Homo sapiens: one gene and its partners. The protein of the gene in region 3 interacts with the protein of the main gene of each other region in a pairwise test. Each region holds a gene or a part of one and is shown on either strand. Other genes may lie near its edges. The genes, in order: EXOSC10, SATB1 and USP16.

Region 1 (3,653 bases), on a different chromosome or scaffold from region 3:
CAGGGAAGCCTTGGCTGTGAGAGCACCCCTGTCACGATGAGGGGCTAGGGCTCATGGCTCACATAAATGAATACATAGCGATCCTGGTCCCTGTGGGCAGTCTGAAAACCAGGCCCATTTCTCTCAGCTCTAGTCCCAGGACCTTAGGGGCAGGTGGCTACAGCAGTGGCCCCCGCACATAAGGAAATCCATTCTGATCTCTGTGCTGGGTGATGCCATAAGGAACTCGGGCTCTGAGGCGACACTCCTGTATAAAGGGCCATTGTGTGGACTGGCCTCTGCTTTCTCTTTTCCAAAGGAGCATGTTGCTCCGAAGGCTGCTAGAGTCGAGAATGCCATCTGTAGCCCCTTCAAAGCAGACGGACTCTCACAGCCCAAGCAGCCATAGGGGTTCATGTCATAGGCTTTGAGATTTTTCAACAAACAAAATTCTGTGTGTGTGTGTGTGTGAGAGAGAGAGAGAGGGTTTATGGGCACAAGTTATAGTGAGGAAGGATGGCGCCCTGGTCACAGTGGAAGTGACAGGTGATCTTGCTAACCCACCATGGAGGCCACCATGAGTTGAGCTCCCATGGAGGAGGTGGTAATGAGGCTGCAGGCGACTGTCCACATTGCCACGGCCTCTCTGGACTACTCCAACAATTCCTGGCTAGCACCATGCCTTGTGCAGGACTCACTTGGCCCCTATATTGTGGTCTCTTTATGGCTTCCTCCCCTCTGACGCGCACAGATGTCCCTGTATGGGGCCCCATTACTTCCTCACCAGCAAAAGCCTTGAAGTCTGACTGGCTGTAGTCGTAAGGCGTAAACTCTTTTTCTGGTGGCTCTGGGTCCTTTGGCTTCTTGGAAATTTTGAGTCGTTTCTTCTCTTGTTTCTGTTCTGTGGTCCTTGGGTCGCTTGTTGCTCGCTCTCTCTTCTTTGCAGCATTTTCTAGCTGTAGATCAGGAACAGATGTGGGGGAGGAACAGGGAGGCACATGGGAACAGGGAACTCCACCGGCCTCAGCAATAGCTGGGACCCAGCTGCCTAAGTGGTAAGAAGAACAGTCAGTGGTGGGGAGAGGAGCTGTGGCTGGAACTTCGGGACCAACACTCAGGGTCAGCTGAAACAAATTCCTCACTGGACAATGACATGAGGTCATTTAAGAAAGGCAAGCAGGCCAGGTGCAGTGGCTCATGCCTATAATTCCAGTGCTTTGGGCGGCCTAGGTGGGAGGACTGCTTTAGGCAGTCTGAGACCAGCCTGGGCAACATAGCAAGACCCCTATCTCTACAAAAAAAAAGAAACAAATGTAGCTGGGCATGGTGGTGCGTGCTTGTAGTCCTAGCTACTTGGGAGGCTGAGGTGGGAGGATCACTTGAACCCAGGAGTACAAGGCTGCAATGAGCTATAATTGCACCACTGTACTCCAGCCTGGGCATCAGGGTAAGAGTAAGACCATGTCACTATTTTTTTTTTAAAAGGAAATTAAAAAAAAAAAAAAAAAAAAGGAAAGGCAGGGGGCAGGGGTTAAGAATTCGAGTGATAGCCTGGGCAATATAGTGAGACCCCGTCTCCACCAAAAACAATAACAAAAAATAGCTGGGAATGGTGGTGTGTGCCTGTGGTCTAGCTACTTGGGTGGTTGAGGAGGGAGGATCGTTTGAGCCCAAGAGTTTGAGGCTGTAGTGAGCTGCAACTGTGCCACTGCACTCCAGCCTGTGCAACAGAGGTAGACACTACTTCAAAAAAAAAAAAAAAAAAAAAAGAGTTCCAGAGTGCTCTGGGGTTTCATTCTCTAGAATGCAACATTTTTGTAGGACACAGCAGGACACACAACAAGCTTCAGCACTGTAACCTCAATACCTTTTCTACTACTACAGTTGAGTGGTCTGGCATATTTACCATAAACACAGTGGAAGAAGGTTAAGAGGAATTACAATATCAATCTTGTGGAGGTTTCGGAAATGAGGTAGACACTAATAGCCAAGCTAAGGTGAACCGGAAAGAAGTCAGGACTTAATATAAAGCACAGGGCAAGCCCCCTAAGATATCCAAGGAAGATCCTGACCACAAGCAGGGGCATCGTTTTTCAAAGGAAAAAGGAGAAAAGCTGGCACATACCACGACCTGCTGTCGGACGGAGATGGCCTGTTCTGCTGCAGCTTTGCACGCCTCCTTTGCCTGTTCCCGGGCAGCTGCAAGGGAGAGAACTTGTCTCTGGAGTTGGTGAATCCAGCAACCACCCTCCCCTCCATCTCCATCCCCCTCCGACTTGGCCTAGCCACAGGGGTTGTCACGGCTGATTCCTCCTCCCTCTCAGGTCCCCGGTCCCCCATCTCTGCAGGACAGGCTGCCTCAGAGCTCAGGCTCAGGTGCTCTGCCCACCTTCAGCTACACGTGAGCTGATCCTCCCCAGCCCTGCCTGCTCCTCTTCTGTGAACCTAAATGCTCAGTGGCCTGTGGACCTGAGGGCGTTTAACAGGATCGTCACCATCACCATCGTGGACAAACCTGCTCAAACCAGCTACTTTGGCTGCCAGCAACTCCAGCTTTCCAGCTGCTCAGGACAAAACCTTCATCCAAGGTTCCCTTCCCTTTTCTCACATGCCACATCCACCTCATCATCAAATGCTGTCAGCTTTGCTATGGGACAGATCAAGGCTCTGACAGCTTCTCACCACCTCCTCTGCTCCCACGCTGGTCTCAAAGCCACCATCCCCTCTCGCCTGAGCCACTGCCATGTCTCCTATCCCTTCCTGGACTCCCATCCTGTCCTCTATAGTCTACTGTTGACACAGCAGCCAGAGTGCCACATGTCAGTCACTTCCCCCCGTCTGCTCAGCACCCTCCTGGCTTCTGAACTCAGAGTAAAAGGCAGCGTCATCCCGTGGGCCTCTGCTGGCTCCTTCCCCATCTCCTGCTCTTCTCTACCCGCTCTGCTCATGCAGGCCCACTTGCTGCTGCTCAGCATGCCCAGTGAACTAGCCCCAGGGCCTCTGGGCTCGCTGTGCTGTGGCTCCAGAACTCTTCTCTAGGTCACTGCAGGTCTCGTCAATGTCGCATTCATTAGACTGCCTTCTCCAACCACCAACGAGACAGCTACAGCACCTCCAGCACTCCCCACCAATCTCTCTGCACAGCACCTGCTGCCATCTGCCAGGATAGATACTGATTGCCCACCATCCCTCAGCAGAAGGGAAGCCCCACAGGGGCTTCATTCATCGCCGTATCTGGCACTTGGCTGAAACAGCGGGTGTGCAACAGCCATTCTTTAACAGCCGACTGAGTTGCAAGGAAGTGAGTGTTACCTGTTTGCTCAGCTGCCTTCTTCTTGACAGCTTCTTTAGAGTCTTTTTGTACTTGTACCTGGGCCAGCTTCCAGCGGTTGCTGATCTATAATGAAAGCAAATATAACAAAAAAAACCCTCCAAAGTCAGCCACCTAAGTCTGTCTTACTTTTCATGAGGTGACGAAGGGCAGGTTAACCTAAGAAGTACACACATTCTAAGTCATAAATTTTCAAATCTAAGGGCATGAAAAATAAATTTCATGCTGGCTTTATTGCTAAAATCCCTATTAAGGACAAAGTGCTACTGTCCTCCAGGCACTGGGCCATCCATCATCTCATTCAATCCCTCTGTAACCCTGGGAAAAAGGTACTGTCATCACC
Region 2 (3,653 bases), on a different chromosome or scaffold from region 3:
TGCACTGAAGAAACAGATCCTTGGTAGCAATCTGCTAAGCAATAGTTAAAAGAACAGACTTTGGAAAGTTGGTGTTTCGATCTGTTTTTAAAGTAATTTTCATTATTTTGTAAAAATGATGTTTAAGAATTTATCTTTGAGGTGCGCTATAATCATTTGTTTCAACCCTGTGACTTTGTTTCTAAAAACTTCTTTGGTTAATTTTTTTTTTTATTTTAAAGCAATTATAATCAAGCACAAATTCTAAATTATTTTAAAAAATCATTTCCTAGTAGCCAACACAATCAAAACAAAAGTGAAAAAAGTATACAAGAAATATTTTTTTTTAAAAAAAGAATGTGAGGGTGAAACTTTAACAATTACAAAGTTAGAAAGTATCTCTGTACTACTCATTTAAAAAATATTTAGGAAAGCTCTTCTTTACCATTTTGTTGGCCCAGATACACATCTTATCATAGATAAGCTATTAGAATTCTAGAATCACATTTTTTTTTTTCCTAAACACAAGCTATTGCTTAAGGGAAACTGACTTGGACAGCTTTTCAAAAATATGAAAGCTGAATTTTTCCCCAGGTAAAAATGGAAACAAAAATCTTTTATACCTCACTCTACTAAGTACTATTTTAGCTTAGTACAAAAAAATCTTCTTTAATCCTGGTTTAGCTTTTAATATTATATCACACATTAAAATTCATAAAGTAGTTCATTCCAGGCAAAACAAACTACTGTTCAGCTCTTCTCCGCAAATAGCACAGGAGGTAAAATAAATGCAGTTGCTTTCAGAATAGCTTTTATCAAGGTAGGGTGTACTACTCCATTATTAAGGCGGCGCCGGGGAAGTAGTTAAGAATTGGAGCTTCTACTACTTACCCTCCCATGTGGGGATAGGGTGCAGCACTAGAGTCTGCTTTTTATTTCACTAAAATTGTGCCGCAGGACACACATTTTCCATAAAAACTCTATTTTGCTTCTTCATGGATTGCTGTATGCATTGAATCATGCTTTTAGATTTTACACGAAATGAACTCTATTTCAGCCTTGATTGGTGAACATCCTACTCTGATGCATGAAGAATTGCCTGCAAGCACACTGCTTTTACACAAGCAAAATTAAAGTTATATGTAGTTTTAATAATTGTGATAATAAACACTGACATTTATTAGTTGTTTATTATGTGCTGGACATTGTATTAATGTATATTAACTTCTTAACTTGCCTAACAGCCCGGAGGAGGTATTATGATTGTCCCATTTTAAAATTGAGAAAACTCCGTTAAAACAAACAGGTTAAACAATTTGTTGGTGGAGCAATGCTGAGATCTAAACTTAACTAGAAACCCAAAGTTATTTAGAGTTCATGACATTACCTGCACCTTCTTTACTTGAAAAAATTCTTAATTTTTAGAGCAGGCTGGACTTGTTTTTTGGTGGCCCTTTGATAAATCTAGCTCATTAATGTCTAATTTTTTAATAGCTATTGATTTTTGATTAAAATCCAATCTAAATTTATTTTTCAGGGTATAAAAATTATATTTTCTTATTAATGAAAATAAGAAATGTCCTCTTTTATGGATGCTTATTAGTGATGGAAAATATTTCCCACTCTCAAATTTTAATATATTAACACTGTCTTTAGCACCATGGTTTCATATTTTTAGATATTTCTTTCCTTCCAGGAACAGTATTATTTTCCAAATCTAGCCTTTAAAAGTCTTCCAGCTTTTAAAAGACGACAATTAATGGGATGCATTTTATAACCACATAAGCAACATCTTAAAATGATCTTCAAGGGATTCATAAGAAATAAAACTTTTACCAAGTGTTAAGTTCCTGCCTGTAACTGAACCTGAAATCAAGATGAACCTATGTTTCATTATATCGTAGAGGGATTTCTTGTAAAGAGACAAAATAGTGCAACTACCAGATTAATCATATACTGTTTATATTAACTTCATAAATTTTCTAAAGCATTGTTATGAAATAGCATACCTTTAGTAATTCTTTAGGTAATTACATAAAGAGATGTAAAAAATGAAGAATTACATAAAGAGATGTAAAAAATGAAGAAAAAAAGACTTTTGTGTAATTCATGTAAAAGCTGTAACTCAGTAATTATATGCTTTCAAACAGTCTTCATGGAAACAAACTGCTAAATTAATTTAACTCCAAAAGTCACACACCATAAAATGCACAAATCAAATTTTAAAAAGTATACCCTTACGGTAGAAATCATCACTTAAAATTCTGTAAAATATACAATTCTCAGATAATAATCATGAATTATTATTGTTCATAAAAATTCCTCTAATAAACTCATCAGGAAAATCTGCAAAGCTTATAGTGAAAAGAAACCTTAAGACCAAGGAAGCTGGGAGGACTGGGTTCTCCCAGATATTTTCATGAGACCAAAGTTTAAAAGGGGCTGTTCTCCCCACAATCCCAGAAATGCCATTGTCTAGTTTTCCCAACTGGATAATTTGTCAAACAAGTTATTTCATTAGGACAATGCTTTAGCACATGCTCCTCTTCCCATTCTAACAAGAAAACCTCCCATCCTCTATGACAAACAAAAAGATCTCCAAGTTTCACTTTTCCCTTTCTAAAATAAGTTTGCTTTTATTCTGAGGAGGTGGCTTGAAGTAGAGGAAGGAGCAAGAGACTTAGCAGAGGATTTGAAAACTCTGACTCAACCTTAAACTTGGTTTTCTCATTTTTCTTCTAGGGAAAGGTTGGTATGAGGATTCAATGAATTAATGTATTCAGCTGCTTTCAGAATAGCTTTTATCAAGTTAGGGTGTGAATCATTATCAGGTGCAAGATATTCTTATTTGTTGAATTAGAGCATGTAAGTTGTGAAAATGTTTGCAGCAACCAGGTCTGGCCCAGAGCCTATAGCCCAGGCAGAGGATGAAGCACAGGGCATAACTGTCCCTACTGGAGCACATGGGATACCTCTGCAGGGAGGCATCTCACCTGGACTGGGCCACCAAGGAGCTCTGGTGTTTCCTGAGGCTAGGTGTCCCCAGGTGGGGTCTGACTAGCCAGGAAGTCCTTTCTTGAAGATGACTTAGAATTCAAGTCCTTCAATAGTTTAGGTCCTTGTTATGGTATGTCCCAAGGGCACTCCAAAATCATCTTCTGCATGTTTTACACTCTATAAAGAGGTGGAAGAGAATCCAGTTTCCCAGGCCTTAATGGGGGCTGGGTTTTCTGTGAACCACTGAGGGCCTCTGCTTTTAACATGTGGTTCTTTAGAAAGAAATCAGGTTTCAGGTGCAACCCAAACCCAAGATTTGTCTCAAAATATGTTTCAAATCTCCTCATTTTGGGGGAAATGAAATGTATACTGATTTCACATGGACTCCTCTTTGGCAAAATGTAAAATTTAAAAAGACAAAATTTTGCAGTCTGTGTTATCTGTGGTTTTCTCCATTTTATCCTTTATTTTAACTCATTTTTAATATGCATACTGGTTCCAGTTTAAGCATCATTTCATTATTTCAACTGCTACAAGACAGCACTAATTCAAGTGCTCTATAACGTGTTTTTCCAAATCTAAAGTACTAATTTTGCATTGATAATACCTTTAATACCTTAAGATTTCTTAAAATTTAATTCATTTAATCATGGTTAAAGGGAAGAATGTGAACAAAC
Region 3 (3,313 bases):
GATCATGTACCTTGTCATAGTCCTCAATGTGACCATAATCTTATAAATTGTCCTTAGCGGCCTCTTCCATTATGCCCATCACAGCAACTGGCCCAGACTTTTTTTTTTTTTTGAGGGAGTTTCTTGCTCTGTCACCTAGGCAGGAGTGCAGTGACGCAATCTCGGCTCACTGCAGCTCTGCCTCCCAGGTTCCAGCAATTCTCCTGCCTCAGCCTCCCGAGTAGCTGGGATTACAGGCGCACACCACCATGCCTGGCTAATTTTTGTATTTTCAGTAGAGACAGGGTTTCACCATGCTGGCCAGGCTGGTCTCGAACTCCTCACCTCAAGTGATCCACCCGCCTCGGCCTCCCAAAGTGTTGGCATTACAGGCGTAAGCCACCACGCCCAGCCCCAAATTCTTCAACATGGAGATTCTTTGAGATCCTTTGTGGTGTCCTCACTTTCTACCCCTGCCTCTTCCACTCAGATACTTAGGAGGGTCCTGTCATTGGCCATCTCCTTTTTCTCTCTTCAGACTCTATACACAAGGGATCCCATCTTCTCATAGTTTAAACTGCCACATATGTACTGATTTCTAAATCTGTGCCCTGGGCCCATCCTAACCTCTCTGCTATAGGTCTCAGATATGTATATCCAAATGTTTTCTAGACTAAGCACATTAATTTCTCAAAGGTATCTGACACTCAAATGTATCTAAAACTGAAGTCATTATCCTTTCTCTACCTGCTTTTCTCAACCTGCTTTTCTCCCTATATATCCTATCTCAATTTACAGCACTCCCATCTGTCGTGCCAGGCCTCAGGAATCATCCTCAACCCTTTCTCTGCCACCCTCAGCATCCACTTATAAAAGGCCTCTGCCTCACCTTACAGTGCCAATCAATCATTAAGTCTGGTTAATTCTACCTCCTGAAATATTCCTTCTATCTCCCCATCTCCTGCCCAACTTTAAGCCCTCATCAACTACTGGCTGAATTAATACAACAGCCTCCAAACTCACTTCCCCACCTCTAGTCTTTCCGTCCTAAAATTCAGCCTTCATACATCAACAAGTAACCTACGTCATATGAAGATCTGACCATGCCACCCCAGTGCTTTAAACTCCTCAGGGCTCCCCACTGTATACCTAATGAAGTCCAAGTTCCTCACCATGAGAACCCTCCAAAACTTCATTCCTATCTCACTTCTCTGGCTTCATTTCTCAACTCTCCCTATAACCTTGTACTATAAACTCTAGAACTACATACGTTACCAGTCTCTGGCAATCACCATCCTATTTTACACTGCTGTTTTTACTCCTGCTGTTCCTTCTGCCTGCAAAACTCATTTCATCTTGATTCATCATACTTTTACTCCTTCTTTAAATATAGTTGAGGCATGGTTTACTTTACAAAGCCATTCCTGAACCACCAACATGCTGGGTTAAGTGTATACCACTCCTGACCTATGTTCACCAGCCTTAACATTCAACCACATTAAACAGATTATTCATTAATAGATCTGCTCACCTTTAGTTTTATGCCCTCCGCTCACAAGACAATGTATGCCATAATAAAGGGGATTCCAAACGTTGAACTGAAATAACCCATTCTTCAAAATGATTCATCACTAATCTTCAAATTATAAAGGTACAATGATCAAAGACCCACTCTACTCAATAAGTGTTATCAACTTCATACTTAAGTGAGTTGCTACTGGAGCATTAGGTAAGCCACAATTTGACTTTAAAGGACTTTCCTGAAAAAGACCACTTTGACTTACCTTACATTTAAGGGTGCAAAAAGGAGCCAAATCTAAGATTTCCGGAAACTTTATGTGTTTGTTAACTTTGCGTAGGTTAAAACCAGCCTAAAAGAGAAGCATAACAGATTGACTTCTTTTCTTGGAAAAGCAATACAGGTTAAGTAAACCGAAGTCCCCTCCGACGTCCAAAAGAATATCAACATTAAGTCCTAGTTCAATTTTCTTTGGAGACTCAATTCTTCCTGAACACTAACTGATTCCAAGTTGGTTTGCTTTTGCTAAGTACACATGTATCACACAAAAAACACACACCAACACATTAAGAAAGCTATTCCCAGCTGGACACGATGGCACATGCCTGTAATCTCAGCACTTTGGGAAGCTGAGGCAGGAGGATCACTTGAGCCCAGGAGTTCGAGATCAGCCTGGGCAACACTGTGAGACTCTGTCTCTACAAAAAAATTAAAAAATTAGCTGGACATGGTGGTAGCCACCTATAGTCCCAGCTACTATAGAGGCTAAGGTGGGAGGATCGCTTGAGACTGGGAGGTCAAACCTTCAGTGAGCCATGATCGTGTCATTGCACACCAGCCTGGGTGACAGAACAAGACTGTTTCAAAAAGAAGAAAAACAACTTTTCTCGTGAGAAAATTCTCAATGTTTCTGCTTCAGCCATCCAGAAATGCCAGATTAGACCACAGGTTCTGAGTGCTTAAAACTCAGCGATAGCATAATACTTTTCTGTGAAACACACGCTCTCAGCCTCATGCTCAAACCAAGCTTAGTGAATTGTTAATAAAGGCCCACCCAATTAGTCAAGCCCATACCAACCACAAGAGGCAAAACGTTCTGAAGATACTGAAAGTACTTTCGGAATTTGCAACACAGTTTAGAAGTTATACAGCTATAGCAAAAGTTTTCCAGAAAAGATGAGGTCACCAAAATGATGACAATCCAAGGCACCAATGTCTTTTTATCAAGGGTCCGTAAAAACAAGATGCCACACACAAAACAGAAAAAATCACTAATATTCCTAAGCATGAGATATATGTAACACACCAGTCTTTTTCTTTTTTTAACCTGAAATAAAAGTAAGATGCCAATCGTACTAAAAAGAGGGACATAAATGAGTTCTAGGAAATCTGAGGAGATTGTGCCTCCATCTTCACATGCGCCTCTGCCTAGCCCCTATGTTTTTCCCTTTCTGACTTCATTGACATTACAGTTAAGAAACAACAGAAAACCAAAGAAACAAAGTAGTATGTTGAGACAGTAATGAAAAAAATAGGTAATAAAGTAGGTGTTACATATTTAAAACAAATTTTGGGTAACAAGGAGTACCTGCTGAAATCTCTTTAAATGAAGAGTAAGAACAGGAGGAGCAAGAGAAATTAGCATCTGCTTTTTGGCATTGGTGTAAACATGCTTCCTTTCACCTAAAGAAAAGAAGAAATTTTTAACAGGGAGAAAATCATTTTAGACCCCTAAAGCATTCAGATTTGCTATAAAATCATTCCAAACATCTAAAGCAAGGATCAGTAAACTTTTTCTATGAAGTACTAGATAAC

What was found.
Region 1: the proteins of USP16 (region 3) and EXOSC10 interact in a two-hybrid assay, tested with the Homo sapiens proteins (one large-scale study listed by BioGRID).
Region 2: the proteins of USP16 (region 3) and SATB1 interact in a two-hybrid assay, tested with the Homo sapiens proteins (one large-scale study listed by BioGRID and IntAct).

The regions. Positions count from the first base shown.
Region 1 is NC_000001.11:11,068,796-11,072,448, forward strand, and holds part of EXOSC10 (exosome complex component 10), read right to left. Parts: intron 3,377-3,653; coding exon 3,292-3,376; intron 2,194-3,291; coding exon of another isoform or gene 2,179-2,193; coding exon 2,105-2,178; intron 936-2,104; coding exon 764-935; intron 1-763. UniProt on the Homo sapiens protein: Catalytic component of the RNA exosome complex which has 3'->5' exoribonuclease activity and participates in a multitude of cellular RNA processing and degradation events.
Region 2 is NC_000003.12:18,380,237-18,383,889, forward strand, and holds part of SATB1 (DNA-binding protein SATB1), read right to left. Parts: intron 1-3,653. UniProt on the Homo sapiens protein: Crucial silencing factor contributing to the initiation of X inactivation mediated by Xist RNA that occurs during embryogenesis and in lymphoma.
Region 3 is NC_000021.9:29,048,629-29,051,941, reverse strand, and holds part of USP16 (ubiquitin carboxyl-terminal hydrolase 16), read right to left. Parts: intron 3,182-3,313; coding exon 3,087-3,181; intron 1,851-3,086; coding exon 1,764-1,850; intron 1-1,763. UniProt on the Homo sapiens protein: Specifically deubiquitinates 'Lys-120' of histone H2A (H2AK119Ub), a specific tag for epigenetic transcriptional repression, thereby acting as a coactivator.